Linked DNA regions of Homo sapiens: region 2 is linked to region 1. Evidence: fine-mapped expression QTL. Tissue or cell type: thyroid. Region 1 holds a variant in brackets; the other region holds the start of a gene. All regions are shown on one strand. Distances are from middle to middle.

Region 1 (8,101 bases):
CGGCGGGCAGCAAAGCGCAGGCGGGAGAGGAGGCGCGGCAAGGCCCACACTCGCCTCCGCCGGGCCTCCCGCTTACCAGCAGCAGCAGCGCCCCCTGGCGCCTGCCGAGGGCACTGCGCAAGAGAGGTCGGCATTGATTTCAGAAGGGCGCCCGGAAGGACACCTGTCTGGCCCCAGACCGGGCAGGAGCCAGGCCTCGGATTTCTCATCTGTCAGATGACAATGATGCTATCTACTTCCCAGGGCCATCGTTCAGATTAAATGATGCAGTGCTTGGGAGAATCCGGATGGATGAGCGACACTATAGAAACATGACTTGGATTTATGGCAAGAGGGACTTCAGTGAGACATGAAGAACTGTTGACTAGACAGGCCGGCAGGACACTGTGGCAGGTTTCCCGTGAAGAATTCCATACTGACAATGTAAAAGAGAGGCAATGACCGTCTGATATAAGTGCGTGACACTGCACAGGTTTCACTGTGTGAAATGCATACATGAGTTCTTGTAGAAATGAATTGATTTTTTTAAGAAGTGACTTAAGGGAAGGAAGACGTGACTTAAGGAACTCAGGAAGTCTCTGTGCCGTCACTAAGTCAGAGATTCCAGAAGATTCTCTCTGAAGAACAGTCACCAACTGGATTATTGAAAATTAGCCCACTGCCACCTCACGGGTGGGCCTTGTAACCCACATCAGCTGGACCAAGGGGCCTGGAGACGCAATAGCCTGGAAACAGGGTGACCCCAAGGGGCAGGCGGGATGCAAGCACAGAGGAAACAAGAAAATGCTGAAGGAAGCTGCTCAGAAAAGTGGAGGCCAGGTGGCTCTGAAACCCAGGTGTGACCACAGAGGAAAGTGCCCTGAAGGCCAGAGACCCAGCTCCAATTACCAGCTATGTGACAGGGGCACGCCCAGCCCCTTTCCTGATTTTCAGAATTTCCCTATCTGGGAGACGAAGATCATGTCGCCGGGGCCTGCCTGTAATACTTCAAAAAACACAAAAACACTCTATGCACCATGTAGAGGATTATTTTTGTGAACTCCAGGGCAGGGAGCATCAACAGCTCAGAGGCAGCACTGGCATCTGCCTCAAGTGTCCTGCCTTCTCTCCATCCCCAGGCACAAGCAGGGCCCACGAATGCCCAGCATCTGCTCTCCAGTCACTGGTGAAATATGGGTGGCATTCACTGTGTCAGCATTTGGAAATTAGCCCGCCTGTGGTCTGGCTGTTGGCGTCCCTGGGGCTCCCTAACCCACATGGCTACGCAGGCAAAGACAGAAACTCTGGTGCCGCCAGCTTCCGCCCGAGGCGCTTTTCTGCGTGGGGTGCTGACTGAGCAACTGAAGCAGGGCTGCAGCATTCACTGGCAGCTGAGACCCAGGATTGGGGGCCCTAGTGGGGCTGGGGTCAATGGGGATGGTACCATGGAGGGGCATGAGCTGGGACATTTAGAACAGAAAGAGAAACATGCCGAGTGAGGAGGCAAGATGTGAGCAGCAGGGCTAGCGGGTATCCCTGGGACCTCAGACAGAAAGGAAGCTGCAAGGGAGCTTGTACCCAGTGATCACAGGCTCATTTATGGGATAGACCCAGGCAACCTGAAGAAAGGCAGAATCAGAGCAATAGCCAGAGGTGACTGTCGTCAGAAACATACCCCTGCTCCTGGGAGCCACTGCAGAGCGGGATAACTGGGGCTCGCCTCCCTGGTGCAAGCCCAGGAGTGAGGGCCTTGTGATAAGATTTCCAAAAACACCAGCCCCGTGCCCTGCCTGTCGGTAAGCGGCCACCGGAACCCCTCCCAGAAAGATAGATGCAGGCTCCGTGTCTGTAGAAGTTTGTGTCCATTTCCCGCTGAAATGGACTCCTGCCTCTCCACACCCCTAAAACCCAAGCTTCTTCCTGATCTCCAACCCACATCCTAACGGGTGAGGTTGAAGTCTAATTTCCTCTGGCCTTCAGTGAGGATGAGAAAACCAGCCCCTTCATAGATGAGAAAGCAGTTTCAGCCCCCAGCTCTCGGCCGCGCTTCTCCGGTGGCTGCCTATTCCCAGCTTCAGGTCCCAGTGGCCGTGGTCATCCGCGTGGGAAGGGATTTGCCTGCTGTGCGCTGGGTGCCTGGGTCGCACCGCTCATCTTGCTGCAGTGCCATCCTCCCAGTCTCTCCACCCCTTTCCCCACTGCCACAAGATACTTAAGGGGCAACTTTGTAGAAATCCAAATCTGTAAACTCCACAGGCTGGGAAACACCCAGCCAAAGGAGCAGGTGTATCAGTAATAAGGGGAAGAAAATCCGAGTGCGGCACGGGGTTTTCTCCACTCTCTGGCAGCCTCCGTCCCCAGCAGACCTCATCCTGTCTCTTCAGTGGTGAGCATTGCCCAGGCTGGGTGTGAATTCTTATGCACAATGGATTCAAGCAGGACTAGGAGTGAGGAGACCCATGTTGGAAAGGACTCTCAGACCTGGTCCTGGGGAGCGCTCTGGGGGTCTCCTGACTCCCCTTCTCCACTCCCTCTGAGGGGATGGAGTATTGGGAGAGGAAACAGCCCTGTGTCCTACCGCCCCCTCCATCCCCCCCGGGGCTGCCCTAGAAGCAGACTGGGTCGGGGAGCCTGGTTGGTAGGTTAGAACGTGCTCATGCTCTGCCAGTTCGCTGATGTGTCATGCAGCCACTCTTGTACCTGCCATCCCTACTCATCCCCTCACGGGGACCAGAGCTTCTGCAGCATAGGGACTGTGTCATCACACTTCACTAAGGCCAGCACAGCGGGGGCTTCCCAGAGGTCTAAGGTGACCTTAGCCCATGCCTGTGGCTTATCTCTGAACCCGATTCAAGCTCCCCATACTCTGTGCATAATTCATCAGCAGTCCAACACTTCCCTTAACAGCATCCAAATACCCTGATCCCCAAAATGGTCACATGCACTTTCCAGCATGAGACCGGGATTACCCTTATCTCTCTGAATATCTCATCACTGGACTCGGACTCCAAGGGGCCACACACTTCACAGAGTCTTCTCCTGTGAAAAGACCCACAACAGTTATTCACAGTTGCTGAGTTCTGCTGAGCTCTTCAAGGACAAATGGTAGATCTGGATAAAGCCAGAAAGCTCCTGAGAATTTAATCAAGG[G/T]CAACGAACCATGAGACTTCCCCTACGGGTAGTCACCTGAGAGAACTTGGGCTGTTTTAACTCTGCAAAGACAGTATTAACCTGTTGCTTTCAATTGTGTTGGGTTGCATATTTAAATCTGTTCCCTGGGGATATGGTGACACACTGATAGACCCCAATAAATACAATTCCTGAATCCCAGCCAAGAAACACTGGTGTGTGTGCAACTGGAGCAGAGGGAGGGGCAGGGACATTGGGAAATTCTAAATAAATGGAAAAATCTGGCTTGTATTTCAAGGATTATTCAAAAAGAATCTTCCCTTAGAAGCATCAGTGAGTCACACGCATCTAACCAGAATGCAAAGTTTACAAAGCATGGTAATGGCAGAACACAGCACAGGGCAGATACACACATGCAGAGATGGACTCTGTTGCATACTGGGGAACCAATTTTGAAAAGTAACAACAGGCTTCTTCTGAGAGAGGAAATTATTCATCCAAAACAGTGCTGGGAAAATTCAGATTTACATTTTTCCTAGGGCCTTTGAGTTGCATATTTCTGCAATGAGTGAGCTGGATTTGATGAGGCTTTACAATGATTGTTCAAAATTAGTGTTTCAATGCTCTGGTTTTAAATGGAATGCTTTTGGGTTGGGTTTTATATTTGACAGCTAAGGACCTTAATAACAGTTTTTGAGAAGCAACTCCTTAGGGCAGAACATCTTTGGATCCTCAATAGTTTTGAAGCGACCTGTTCTCTGCACTATTTTTGGTTTCTTTCTGCTATTTTTCTAAAAAGAATCCAGGAGTTTCATGTGTAAGAGCATCGTTCTTTTTTCCGTTTGCTCACAGATTCTGACGAGGCAATGGCAAGAAAGGCTGACACTTTGCACATCCTTCACAATCTTCTGCAAGGATGGCTTAGAATCGTCCTGCGTGGAGGAAGGAACAACCTTTGACCTTAAGGTAACTTAAGGTTTGACCTTAAGGTTTATTACTGACTTTTCTTTTTCTTTTTTCTTTTTCTCTCTTTTTTTTTTTTTTTTTTTTTTTTTTTGAGACAAAGTCTCACCCTATCACCCAGGCTTGAGGAGTGCAGTGGCACGATCTCAGCTCACTGCAACCTCCGCCTCCCGGGTTCAAGCAATTCTCATGCCTCAGCCCCCTGAGAAGCTGGGACTACAGGTGTGTGCCACCATGCCTGGCTAATTTTCAAATTTTTAGACAGATGAGGTTTTTCCATGTTGGCCAGGCTGGTCTTGAAATCTTGACCTCAGATGAGCCTCAGCCACCAAAAGTGCTGGGATTACAGGTGTAAGCCACTGCACCAGGCCTATTGTTGACTTTTCTAGGGGTCTATCTTTTATATGTCTCTACACTAATTTTTTTCTTCAGCATTTTTTGAAGATGTTTGTTTTTGTTGTTTTCTTTTTCCAATTTCTGCACACCCTGCTTGTTCATGATGATTTCTGAACCACATAATCGAGCCAACCACTTTTTGCTATTTCACAGCAGTACTAATACTATTCCTGAACCATATATATTTCAGGAGAAAGAGCAGATTGGGAAAGCCTAGGCCCTTTTCTGTATACTTTTGGCTTGAGCCTAGGTCATCACAGTCTTGAATGTGGGAGGGTGAGTGGAAGGAAAAGGGTCTGTGCCATTCAAAGTGTGCTCTTTTTGCGGACTTTGGGAGTCTCTGGCTCCTGTTTCAGAGCTCCACTTCATCCTCGCCTGTCCCCATCACTCTCTGCAGCTGATTGGCCACCAGACTTTGTGTCTTCTCCCTCTTGGTAATCTCCTCCCTGATTACCCGGCCGTGGTCTTACCCTACTCTAGTCCACCTTGCACTGTGCAGGCAGAGCAACTCTTCCACAATGTAAATAAGATCTTACCCCGGTTCTCACCACCTTCCGGACACTGCCCAAGTTCCTCAGCATCACATACTAGGTCCTTCATCGTGGCACCCTGCAGCTTCCCTCACCCCTCCCCTGGCCACCCACCCTCAGCCACACCAGCCTGGTATTCCCTGTGTAAGTCATGCTCTCTCTCATTCTTGCATATTTTTGTAAATGCCATTTCCTTGTTCTAGAATGTTCTTCCCCCTGCCTCCAGTAGGCCCCTTCCTGCCCACCCAGCGCATTTAGGATCATGCTTCCATGAGGTCCTCTGTAGGAAAAGTATGATGTACTTTTCTGTGCAGGCAGCGATGATACTATGAGCTACATTTCTGTGTCACAGTCCCCACTCATCAGGTATCTCTCCCATTAGCGTGTGAGAGCCTGTTTCCATGCACATAGCCCCTAGCCCAAGTACCTGCCCTCTAGAGCAAAGCATTTCCCAAGCCATTCAGTGGTTTCCCAGGACCTAGCATCCAAAACACAATGAGTTCTAATTACAAGCTTGTTGAAAGGCAAATGAAGAAAAAAACCTGTATGTATAATAATAATAGTCATGAGAAAGACAAGAATGAAGAGAAGAAAGACAATAGTCATCACTGGCATCTTAAATTATGGAGCCAAGGGGAGAAACATTTGGGTCACCCTCAGGATCAAACTGCCAGGCCAGAAGCAATTCCACTGAGAGGGCACCAGGAAGCCTTCAATGCATGGAAACCCTGGAGCAAGTAAAAGGCAAAGCATGTGAGTCACAGCTGAATCCCTGGACAATCACTGAGCTGTGACAAGGTGCAGGGTAGACTCATAACCTAGCACAGAAAAACACATTACTGAGGAAAGGAAAAGAACGTGAATGGGGAATTTTGAGACTTAGCTCTTCACAGAAAAGCATGCTTGGCAATTACAAACTTCTTATATTAAAAAAAATCAGGCAAACCAAAAGTCATTAAAGCATTAAAGATTAAGACCCACTCACAAGGAATTCACATACTCTGCTTCTTTACAAGGGCAGTCTTGCACCTACACTGACTTGGTGCACCTCCTTACACAGAAGAAATCCACCTTCATGACTTGAGTATAAAAAAATGCTTTTCTGATGGCCCATACGTTCCCAGATATCTCCACCCCATCATGCTCTTAAAAGCTGAAGCTGACTTAGTGAGAATCCATTTACACTAAACAGTGTAGAGTAAGACAACACAAGCCAAGCCCATGACTGAAGGGAGCCCACAAAGACTGGGCAGCTCCTCCAATGTAACCGAAGATTCAACCAAAGATTCTAACTGCCCTCCAGCCCCAGGGCTACGGAATGGCCCAGGGAAGGCAGCGTGCAGCTCGCAACTAATAATCCAGGTACAACCAGCAGATCAAAAGCATCCAGTGAGTGGCTCTGCCAAGTCCCTGTCCATAAAAGGTCCATAGCACAATCACTATGTTTTGCTCCATTTTGTAAGCCCAGCTAAAAGGAGAAAAATTCAATCATTTTTCCTAAAGATTGCTGGTTGCGAAAGACCAACTCCTTTTAAGCGTCTATGCACCAAATCTGTAAGATACAGATATTGGGAGAAGGGGCTCCATACCTGTTCAGAGCAGAGATAAACAGTTGGCATTCACTGGTATAGAGCAATTGTCACAACAGTCATTAGGAAGCTGAACAAATGTTGAGAAATCCAAATGTATCCATTCAGAATGGTGCAAAATTCCTATAAAGTCCTACATCAGAAAATGAAAGAAAGACATTTGGGTGAAGGTAATCAAAATGTCTGGCTAACTCTTGCCTTTTCCTGATATATGTTTTCCATAATAGACCCCACTAGCACCTTGATCCTCTACCTTAAAGATGGAAACGGCTTGGCAGAGGTTGTGTTACTAGGCAAGGTCTTGCTACAATTGAAAGGATGCCACCAGAGATGAAAACCCTACATACATCTCTGCCACCAAAAGAAGACTTTGGAATCAGGCATGATGCAACCAAAGATTCTTACTGCCCTCCAGCCCCAGGGCTGCGGAGTGACCCAGGGAAGGCAAGATGCAGCACACAGCTAATAATCCACATGTAACCAGCACACCAAAAGCATCCAGTGAGTGAGTTAAAACCATGCTTCTATCTATCCCCCAGGAGTGGACAGACAAGTCTGCCTAGATTTGAGGCGGGGAAAAGAGGTCTAAATTTTCACAAGAATTAACTTCTTTTTCCTACAAAGAGACAATGAGGTGTTTCTCCTCTTACCTCATGGATTGCTGGAGTAAATGTAGAAACAAAAACTCATTTTCTTGGTCTCCAAGAAAGCAACCAGATTCTCGATGTGAGCAAGTCCCTGCACCTTTGATGCAAGAGTTTGGATATGCTAGGTGAGGGTACCCGAGGCCCTGTTGATTTTATGAGTCTGTGGGCCAGCTCAGACCGGCTGCCAACTCATCTGTATGCAACAGTTCTCAAAGAACATAGTTTACTTTATAACCGGATCCAACAAGAGTAGGCGTGGCAGTTAAGTGAGTGAGATACCAAAGGTGTTGAGCTACCAAGGCTAACTAAGAAGGATTTGTTTATGGAACCCTGGCTTGGAACCAGAAGGCCGGTATGCTCATGTCGATGTGTCTAAGTCAAAGGCATGAAGTTGAACACGTGCGCACATGAGGCTGGATGTTACAGGGCAGGGAAGTAGGGGTCCCCAAGGAGCCCCTCACAAATGTCTCCTGTCCTGTGAATCACTCAGTGGCCCTAGAACAGCAGTCCCCAACCTTTTTGGCACCAGGGACCAGTTTCATGGGAGACATTTTTTCCATGGACCAGGGAGGTGGTGGGGGAGGATGGTTTCGAGATGATTCAAACACATGACATTTATTGTGAACTTTGTTTCTACTGTGTTTACTTATAATAATTACTTTACTTCTATTATATTCTATTATATTCCTTATTTCATTATATATTATATTCTAATATATAATGAAATAATATTCTATTACATTATATAATATTCTATTCTATTCTATAATATTATAGAATGAAATAATGAATATGGGATGAAATAATGAAATATTCTATTCTATTATAGAAGGAAATAATATTCTATTCTATTCTATGAAATAATATT
Region 2 (8,101 bases), 43 kb after region 1:
TCTTCCTGCCGGGCCGCCTGCCTTTGTTGTCCTGAGGACTGACAGGTAATGTTTGTGGCAGACCTGTTGGTGCAAACAGGGAGGCTGTGAGAGGAATTCAGTGGCACTACCACAACTCTTAACAGCACTCTCAGCCTAACTCACAACGCAGCCCAACATGTCCATGGGCAGAAAAGGCCTCTCTCCGACTCCCTAGCCCAGAAATACGAACCGGCAGCTGACAGACTGAATCTGACTCACACATAGATTCTCTATGGCTTGCTCACTTTTTCAAAAATTGTTGAATTAGTGGTCAACATGGAAAAAAAATTTCATCTTCAAAAGTTTAATTTCTGGCTTTTCTGGAAAAAGCAAAGGGAGGATCTTGCAGTACTGGCTCCACGGCATGGCAAGGCAATAATGAACTAGAGCCGAGTAGCAGCTGCCGCTTTAGAACTGCGTGTGTGTACAGCTCACCACAGTCCCCACCACCCCCTACCATGTCCCCCAAACCCAGGGCAAGTTTTGGTTGCATTTATCATGGGTTTGTATATGTGCTTTTCCTAAAATAAAGAGAATGCAACATTTTAAATGTTTCTCTACATCAAAATATGAAAATGAAGCTCTAAGACATCCCATTTAAATAAAAATAGGAGAAAGCCTACTAATTGCACGTGACCAAGAAGGATGTAGAGTGTGTCTGTGTTGGAAGAACGCGATCCGGCAGCTGCACTCACCTCACACAGCCACAGCCGTGGGTGTAGACGGCAGAGCTCAGCACAGACTCACAGGTTCTGGTTACTATGGCATGCACATCCTGCCCAGCTGAGAAATTCCAGAGTGAGGAGGTGTTACCCTCACTCCTGACAGAGGCAGACCTGCCTTAGATGAAGGAGAATCCAGTGAAGGGGTGTTAAGAATGAAATCAGTGGCTGCTAGTTAGTGGTCTTGTTTCTACTGCGGGGGCCGTTGTCCAAGCAGACCTTCAGAGAGTGACGGGGCACTCTTGGTGATGATGCCAGAATGACAGGTGTTACCTGGGATGCATGGACATCTTATTTCCTGGGAGCAATCAGGGACCTCTGGGGGCAAGTATTGTGCTTAGAAACACCGAGGAGCAGCTGTTAGATGAGTAGGGAGCATGCTGGAGGGGAGCAGGAGGGAGAGGGAGAACACAGCCCTGGCTGGCGGGAAGTGACCCGAGCTGCCGGGCAGCTTGTGCACAGCGGACCACATGGCAGGAAATCATGAGTTCCTTCCCTGGTGCTCCCCCCGGGACTCAGAACAACCCCATCACACCCAGAGGGCTCAGGAGGAACCAACCTCCCAGGCAGCGGTGGCTGCACTTAGAGCCTTTGGAATCAGACAAAACCTAGCCCGCTGCTTAGTAACTGTGTGGCCTGAAGCAAGCTACCACATCACTCTGCTTTTGTGACCTGTAAAATGAGGCGACTAAAACGGACTTAATAGATCTGTTTCAGGATTAAATGATACAATGCATGAAAAACACTCAGCACAAAGATGGCACAGAACAGGGATTCCATGCTGGAGCTATTATTACTGTTTGCTCCCCTGTTCTCAGGCCCACAAGGCTCTGCCACCTCACCCTGCTCACTGGACGCCTTCCTCACCAGGGCCTTCCTGACTCTTCCTCGCCCACCCCAGACAAGCCAAATTCAGGACTGCACCCTGGCCTCTCTCTCACTCTCTACTGCACTGATTTTTTTTGCCTGTGTACTCCCCACCAGACCAGGAACTCCTTGCGGACAGAGAACGCATCAAGGGTCGTCAATCTCATTACCTGTTGGAGTCACCTGGGGCCAGATTCTGGGACTAGGCATCAGCACGTTGTCCAGCTCCCAGCTGATGGCAGCGTGCGTCCAGGGCGGAGAGGTCGTGCTACTCAGGTGTGCACTGAGGACCAGCCGCGTCAACATCACTGCGGCTTCTTAGCAAAACCGCGGACTCTGGAAACCCCAGACCTACAGAATCAGAACCCGCATTTTAGCCAGATCCCCAGGAAGGGAAAGCACAGGAACGAATGCCAGTGAAGTGTGAGTCGACCTCCTTCTATCCCCAGAGCTCAACATAATTCAAACACCCAGTGGGTGTTGAGTGGGGGTTCGCTGACTAATTGACTGAGTGAGTGAAGCCCTGTGTCAGCTTCCACTGGGATTTCACACCTACTCCATCATGTGCTATGAAACAAACAGGCTCAAAAAGCAAACCCGTAAAACGTTCAGAAATTCAAAAATAGACACAGACCTAAGTTGATAGAACAAATAGCTGCAAAATGGTGCGGTTTTTAAATGAAATACCTGACGGGTTTTTAAAGATTTATTACCACCGGGCTCTGTGCCATTAAACCTCCGAGTACACTAGAGGATAATTTTGTTTTGTTTTAAGGTTGGTAATTGTGAAAAGCTGGGAAACCAGGACTGGCCCCTGGGAGGATCCTGTCCACCGGTGTGGCTTGGGCACAGTCTCTGGGTGGCTGGGGCCGCTGGCCCGCCCTTCCTCCAGGAAGAGAGACCCGCTGGCGGGGAGTCCCCGGCACTGCCAACGGCCTCCCCACGCCCGTTCCCTGGGGACAGGGCCTCTGTCTCCCCTCCGCAGGCCCCTCCTGGCTCTCACCCTCCCACCCCGCATCCCCCAGCCCCGCCTCCTCCGCAGCCGCAGAGCTGCAGCTGGCCAGGGGGCCACACCCAGGCGTCGAGCACCGCCTTATCCAGCCGCACTGGGGGCTTCGTCCCCTGCGGGGTGAGGGGTCTCCCCTGTGTCACCCTCCGAGGCCACGCTAGACGTTGTGGCGCTCAGGGCTCCCGGTTCCTGCCGCGCTGGGGCTCCCCCGTCCCAGCCTCCCTCCCCACCTCTCCCAGGCTCCCCTCCCCTGTCGCAGCCACCCTCCCCCGTCCCAACCTCCTCCCCTTCTCTCGCACGATCCGGCCAAGAGATGGCGGGGTGGCGGGAGGGGCGCTCTGGCGACCCCGGAAGCGAGAAGCAGGCCTCTGCAGGGCCAGGGATGAAGGTGCAAGGGAAAGCCCTGGGACCTGGACCTTAGGCGTGGGAGGGACGAAAGGGAAAGGTCTTAGAAAATTCCTCAGGCGTGGCTTCTGGGGGGGCGGGGCGGGGGGAGGAAAGGGGCACGGGTTCCCGGTCTCGTAGACGCTGCAGCGGAGCAGAGCCTCTAGGCATGCCCTCATCTAGAGCAGCTGCTGCGGAATCCGGGGAGCCTGCAGCACTAGCCGTGCGATTCCGGGCGAGGTTTTTAAACTCTCACCTGTTTTCCCCTTTTGTAAACTGAAGATAATGCCTCTCTCCCGGGAGTGGGAGCACGATGCTGACACACCGTAGGAACTCGGGACTTGCTGATTCTCCTTCCTTATCCTCAAGGCGTTTGAAGCACTCCTGCCCCTCACCCCCACCCCTCCAGCCCCTTTCCCAGCCCTGCCCCCTGGTGGAAAATCCTAAGAGCTACCTCTCAGGAGGGCTCCTGTAAACCAGGCACTGTACACACACCTTTCATTTCATCTTCGCAGCAGCTCTTTTTGGTGAGTACTGTTATCCCCATTTTGCAAATAAAGCAACGGAAGCTTAGAGAAGTAACTTTTCCAAATGTGCCTCAGCTCCAGGCAAAATAGGAACCTAGGTCATCTGATGCCAGAGTCAGCCTTCCTAACTGTTTATGATCCGACTTCCCTTTCTGTACTGGATTTTCTATTTCTGCCATAACAGATGACCACAGACATAGTGGCTGGAAACAGCACCCACTTATCAGCTCACAGTTCTGTAGGTCAGAAGTCCAGGCTTGATGCGACTGTGTCCTCTGCTCTGTTCCCACAAGGCCAAAACCAGGGTGTCAGCGAGGCCAGCATTCTCATGTGGAACTCAGGGCCCCCTTCAAGCTCCTGTGGTTCTGGCAGAATTCAGGTCTTTGTGGTTGTAGGACTGAGGTCCTCACTTTTTTGCTGGCTATCATCTGGGGGCTGCTCTCAGCTCCCAGAGGTCACCCACATTCCTTGCCGTGTGGCCCCCTCCATCTTTAAAACCAGCAAAGGAGAAGCCCCCTCTGTCTAATTCCTCTAATAATTTGAATCTCTTACTTCGGGAAAAGCCCAATCCCTTCAAAGGGCTTGTGATTGGGTCAAGCTCACCCCAGATGAACTTTCTTTCTTCAGTTCAGCTCTGCCATATGACATGCCCCAGTCATGGGAGTGAGGATTTCCTGGGGTTCCTCAGGGGGTGTATACCAGGGGGCAGGAATCACGAGGGTGTGTTGGAATTCTGCCTACTTACAAGTGCCTTCTCTGTCCCCAGCATGTATTCTGGTGTTACATTCAAGTGTAACACCTCGAATGCTTCCTGCTAACCCTAAAGGGCCTTGAGGGGACTGGGGCAGCCTGTTCACCAACCAGTTTGGAGCATTTTCCTATGAGTACAGTCATATATATTCCCACAGAAGAGTATACAAATATCTCCATATGAGACATAAGCACGCCCTCCTCCATTCCTCTTCCTCCAACTTCATCCCGTGTTTCAAAGCTCAGAGAGTGGTACATTTTGATCCAGCATATCTTAGAAAGTAGGAAATTGATAAAGATGCTTGTGATCACAGATAGGGAGACTGAGTCTGTGAAAAGACTCCCAAGCCAGTGGTCTCTCCAGGAAGCCCTGCTGACCCCCAAGCAAGGCTCTTACCAAGTTGTTAGGGCCCTGACTCCTGACATTCTAGACCACGCCATGACACCAAGTTTTCCTCCCTGTGGGTGCGTGATGTTTGACATTCTTCATTCAGAGGTCCATCTAAATGGATGTCACATTCACTAACGCATCATCTGAAATACAACTTCCTTTGATTTTGCCTCTTTTGAGTCTTTCTCCACTTGTGTTTTCCTATCAAAGGGATTAAACCACTTTGCTGGACTTGAAGCTCTGTCTTTTCCAAAAGCTTTCATCATGTCTCAACACAGCTTCCCATTCACAGACACAGGAGAGGATGGAAGAAGAGAAGTATCAGGCTTGATGAGGCTTAATAGGATTTGCTCAAGTCAGTGCCTTTCCCTGCGTCCTGCAGAGAGTAGCTAGGATGCTCAGCTTACCTAGGCCAGCCACAGCATTCCTCCCTGTCTGTCCTCTACAGACAGTTCTGCAAAAACCCTAGCTTCAAAGAGGAAATGCTAGAATATCAACTATGGGAGGGCTGGCTCTGCGTTTATCTTCTTCACTGCTTTATGTCCAGCTCCTAGCACAGGGGTTTGGCTATAGTAGTTCCTCAATTAATGTGTGCTTAATGAGTGCATAATTAATAGAACGGATCTCGAAAACCTGATTAAAGAATTTCATCTCCATTGTCCCTGAAAATCCTTTTGACTTGATAGGCACACAACACTGGAAGCCAGGGTTTCAAGGATGGGGATTTTACTTACCCTTAAAAGAAATCTAAACAGTAGAGGCTGCATGCTGGTCAGCTCAATGCTTGCCCTGCAAATTGCCCACTGGGCCTTTAGCTATTTGTCTTAGATAATCTCTACCTCTCTTTCTTCATCTTTAAAATGGGGTTAATGGGATATTGCATTAAATTTCAATTTGAGGAGAGATTATGAATACGTATGTTTATTTTATTTATACTTATGTTTGTATCATGTATTCTTTCCATGAATCCCTACAATTGGCTCCCAGGGCTGGAGGAGCAGAGGATATTATCTGGGATTTATAGCAGAGTAAACTGAGGCAAAGAAAGTTAAGTTTGTTTGTATTTGGACCACAAAGCTGGTTTGTTGGACACTGAGTCAGAATCCAGATGTTACCCTGGGTTGAGCAAGGGATGACTTCTGCGGATGATTCCAGCGCACAGGAATGCGTCCCAATATCAAATCAAAAGTAAACCACCCTTTCCTATCTGCCAGACGCAAAAAGTTTTCCTATCTGGGCTGAAGTCTCCTAGAAAACATTTTCCCGTTTCTAGTACGGCACAAAGCCTTCGCCTACAAGAATGTATGCAAGTATGTTTAAAAATAAAGAAGGAAACAGTGCAGAAAATCAGCAGCAAGCTGTTTCCCCAAAGAGCTGAGTACAGGAGGATGTGAGCTCCCATGTGCCCCGGCCAATGACTCATTCTTGTGGCACTGTGCCTGCCCTGCCCAACCTCAGTGGCTCAGGGAGTCCGCAGCGGCACCCCCATTGGAAGCCTATCTTGGTTCCAACAGCTGGGGTGTCCAGAATACACGGGGCCTCGGGACAGCAGCATTTTCCATCATCTCTGAGCATCTGTGATTGAGTTTTCAGGATGAAGTCTCCCACTTAAGGCAGAGCAAATTCCTGCTTGGGATTCTGCAAAGATAGCCCCAAGCATTTTCCTCCTTGTCTCATTTATCCTTGTTAACTGCCACATGAAGGAGCAGGAAGCAGGTGGCCCTATGCAGAATGGGAAATGGCCAATGGACATCTGGGACAAAGCCCTTCAGATGACCTTTTGATATGATGTTTTAAAGGTTATCTTGAAATTGCTATAATCACCCAGGCAGCACAGGAAAAGGCCTGCCAGGGTCATCTGACTCCCCAGGACAGCTGGGATCTACCTTGGTTTGCCATTAGGCAGTCAGCTCAGTGGTTGACAGGCCTTTTTCCAGGTTGTTCTACTGGGGACACAGCTTCCCGGTGTTCTGCCTGGTGGAACCTGCAGCTGGAGTCACCCTCAGAATGGTGGCAGGGGAATTCCTGCAAGGGACTGCCCAAACCATCCCCAAATGGGGTCAGTTGAGATTCCAAAGAAGAAATCACCAAGTTCCAAAGCACTTATTAGGGGAACTTACATGTAGAGCGCTGCACTGGTCCTCATGACAGACAGCAAGAAAAGAGGTGCTCCGCTTAAGTATGTCTGCGGCAAGGGCTCTGGGTTATGGAGTTATTTGGCCCAAGGTTGGGCTAATTCCTACATGTTTAGCAACATGTTTAATCTTTCAGTATTTCAGGTAACAACCTAAACAGGGTTTCAGTGCCAGGGAATGTTTCCAGGGCTCAGGCCTGCAGGAAAAGACATGCAGCTGGCCAAGTGACAGAGCAGTCTAGGCATTCTGTGTTTCTCGATCAGGACAGATAAGTAAGTGGGGGTTCCTGGGGGACCCTATACCCGGGAGGGAGGGTAACTGCGAATTCAAGGAAGACTTACTTATAAAGAGGAAGAAGGGTTGAAAGATAGTATCCCTAAGGTGATGTTTCCCAGGGCCAGAAGCTCATAGAACTTTCTGAAGGGAGCAGGTCATCAGCCTTAGCATGAGCCCCGGAGCATCAGTGTCTGCTGGCCGTTGTGTGGTGAGTGCTGTGGGTCAGCCTTTGGGCTGCAGCCAGATAAACCTAGACCCAAAACCTCACTTGGTCACATGCTAAGTGAGCTTCATTCTTCTCTTCTGAAAAATGGGGGGATAATAATGGTATTTATCTAACCATGTTGTGAGGATTAAATCAGCCAATGGATAAAAATTTCCTAGTGCAGTTCCTGGCTTCTGAGTGCTCAGAAATGTTGTCTGTTATTGTTAATTAAAGAGGTCTTTCCCAACTGAATGAGAGTCTTAAAGCTCGTTAAATGGGTTTTGAGGGGACTATCAGACACCTGTATTGCAGGTGTGTGGGTATCTCTTGGAAGTGTGGTAGGCACCCCCACAAACACATTACGCCCTTTGAAGAGCTTTGGGGCCATTAACATCCTGTCCAGTTCCATTTCTTAGAGGACAGGGAATCAAATTTTCTAATGGCGGGCCTACACAGCAATTTGTCATTTTAATAAGCACTCAGATGGCTGCAGACTTCACACTCAGACGGTAGGGGTGACCAATTGACAAATCAGATACATGCTGCCTTTTCCTTTCTGTCTGCTGCTAAAAGACCTCAAGATAAATAGAGACAGCAAGGAATGAAAGAAACAGCACAGGCTTGGGCCAGATGAGCAGGAATCCAAAAATCAGCTCTGCCTGATATTTGGTGGCCTGGGTGTCACTTAACCTCTTTGGAAGCCTGTTTTTTTATTTATCCATCCAATTACTCAGTAAGTACTTTTTGAATACATCCATGTGCCGGGCTGTGTTCTAAGTGCTTGGAATACCAGAGAACAAAATGAACACAAACT

Which allele goes with the higher level. Alleles are on the strand shown, and positions count from the first base shown. SD is a standard deviation of normalised expression in the study named.
With allele T in place of G in region 1, the expression in thyroid of the gene that starts at base 3,581 in region 2 is lower (moderate effect, 0.63 SD a copy in GTEx).

The links. PIP is the estimated chance that this variant, and not a neighbour inherited with it, causes the effect.
Region 2: it holds the start of KCNJ5-AS1, and the variant in region 1 is fine-mapped to the expression of KCNJ5-AS1 in thyroid (GTEx, PIP above 0.99).

Annotation. Positions count from the first base shown.
Region 1 is chr11:128,859,937-128,868,037 of GRCh38, forward strand. KCNJ1 (potassium inwardly rectifying channel subfamily J member 1) reads right to left here and starts at 7,360. Exons shown (of 3, transcript NM_153766.3): 1 at 7,237-7,360. LOC107984409 (a long non-coding RNA gene) reads left to right here. Exons shown (of 3, transcript XR_001748442.2): 2 at 3,961-4,074; 3 at 6,814-7,243. RefSeq lists an enhancer at 1-37 and a silencer at 1-232. The variant G/T (reference allele first, on the strand shown) is at 3,130.
Region 2 is chr11:128,902,651-128,910,751 of GRCh38, forward strand. It overlaps KCNJ5-AS1 (KCNJ5 antisense RNA 1), which reads right to left and starts at 3,581. Exons shown (of 4, transcript NR_045767.1): 1 at 3,499-3,581; 2 at 1,781-1,961; 3 at 717-861; 4 at 1-63. The region is part of intron 1 of KCNJ5 (potassium inwardly rectifying channel subfamily J member 5); the gene reads left to right. RefSeq lists a silencer at 2,446-2,515.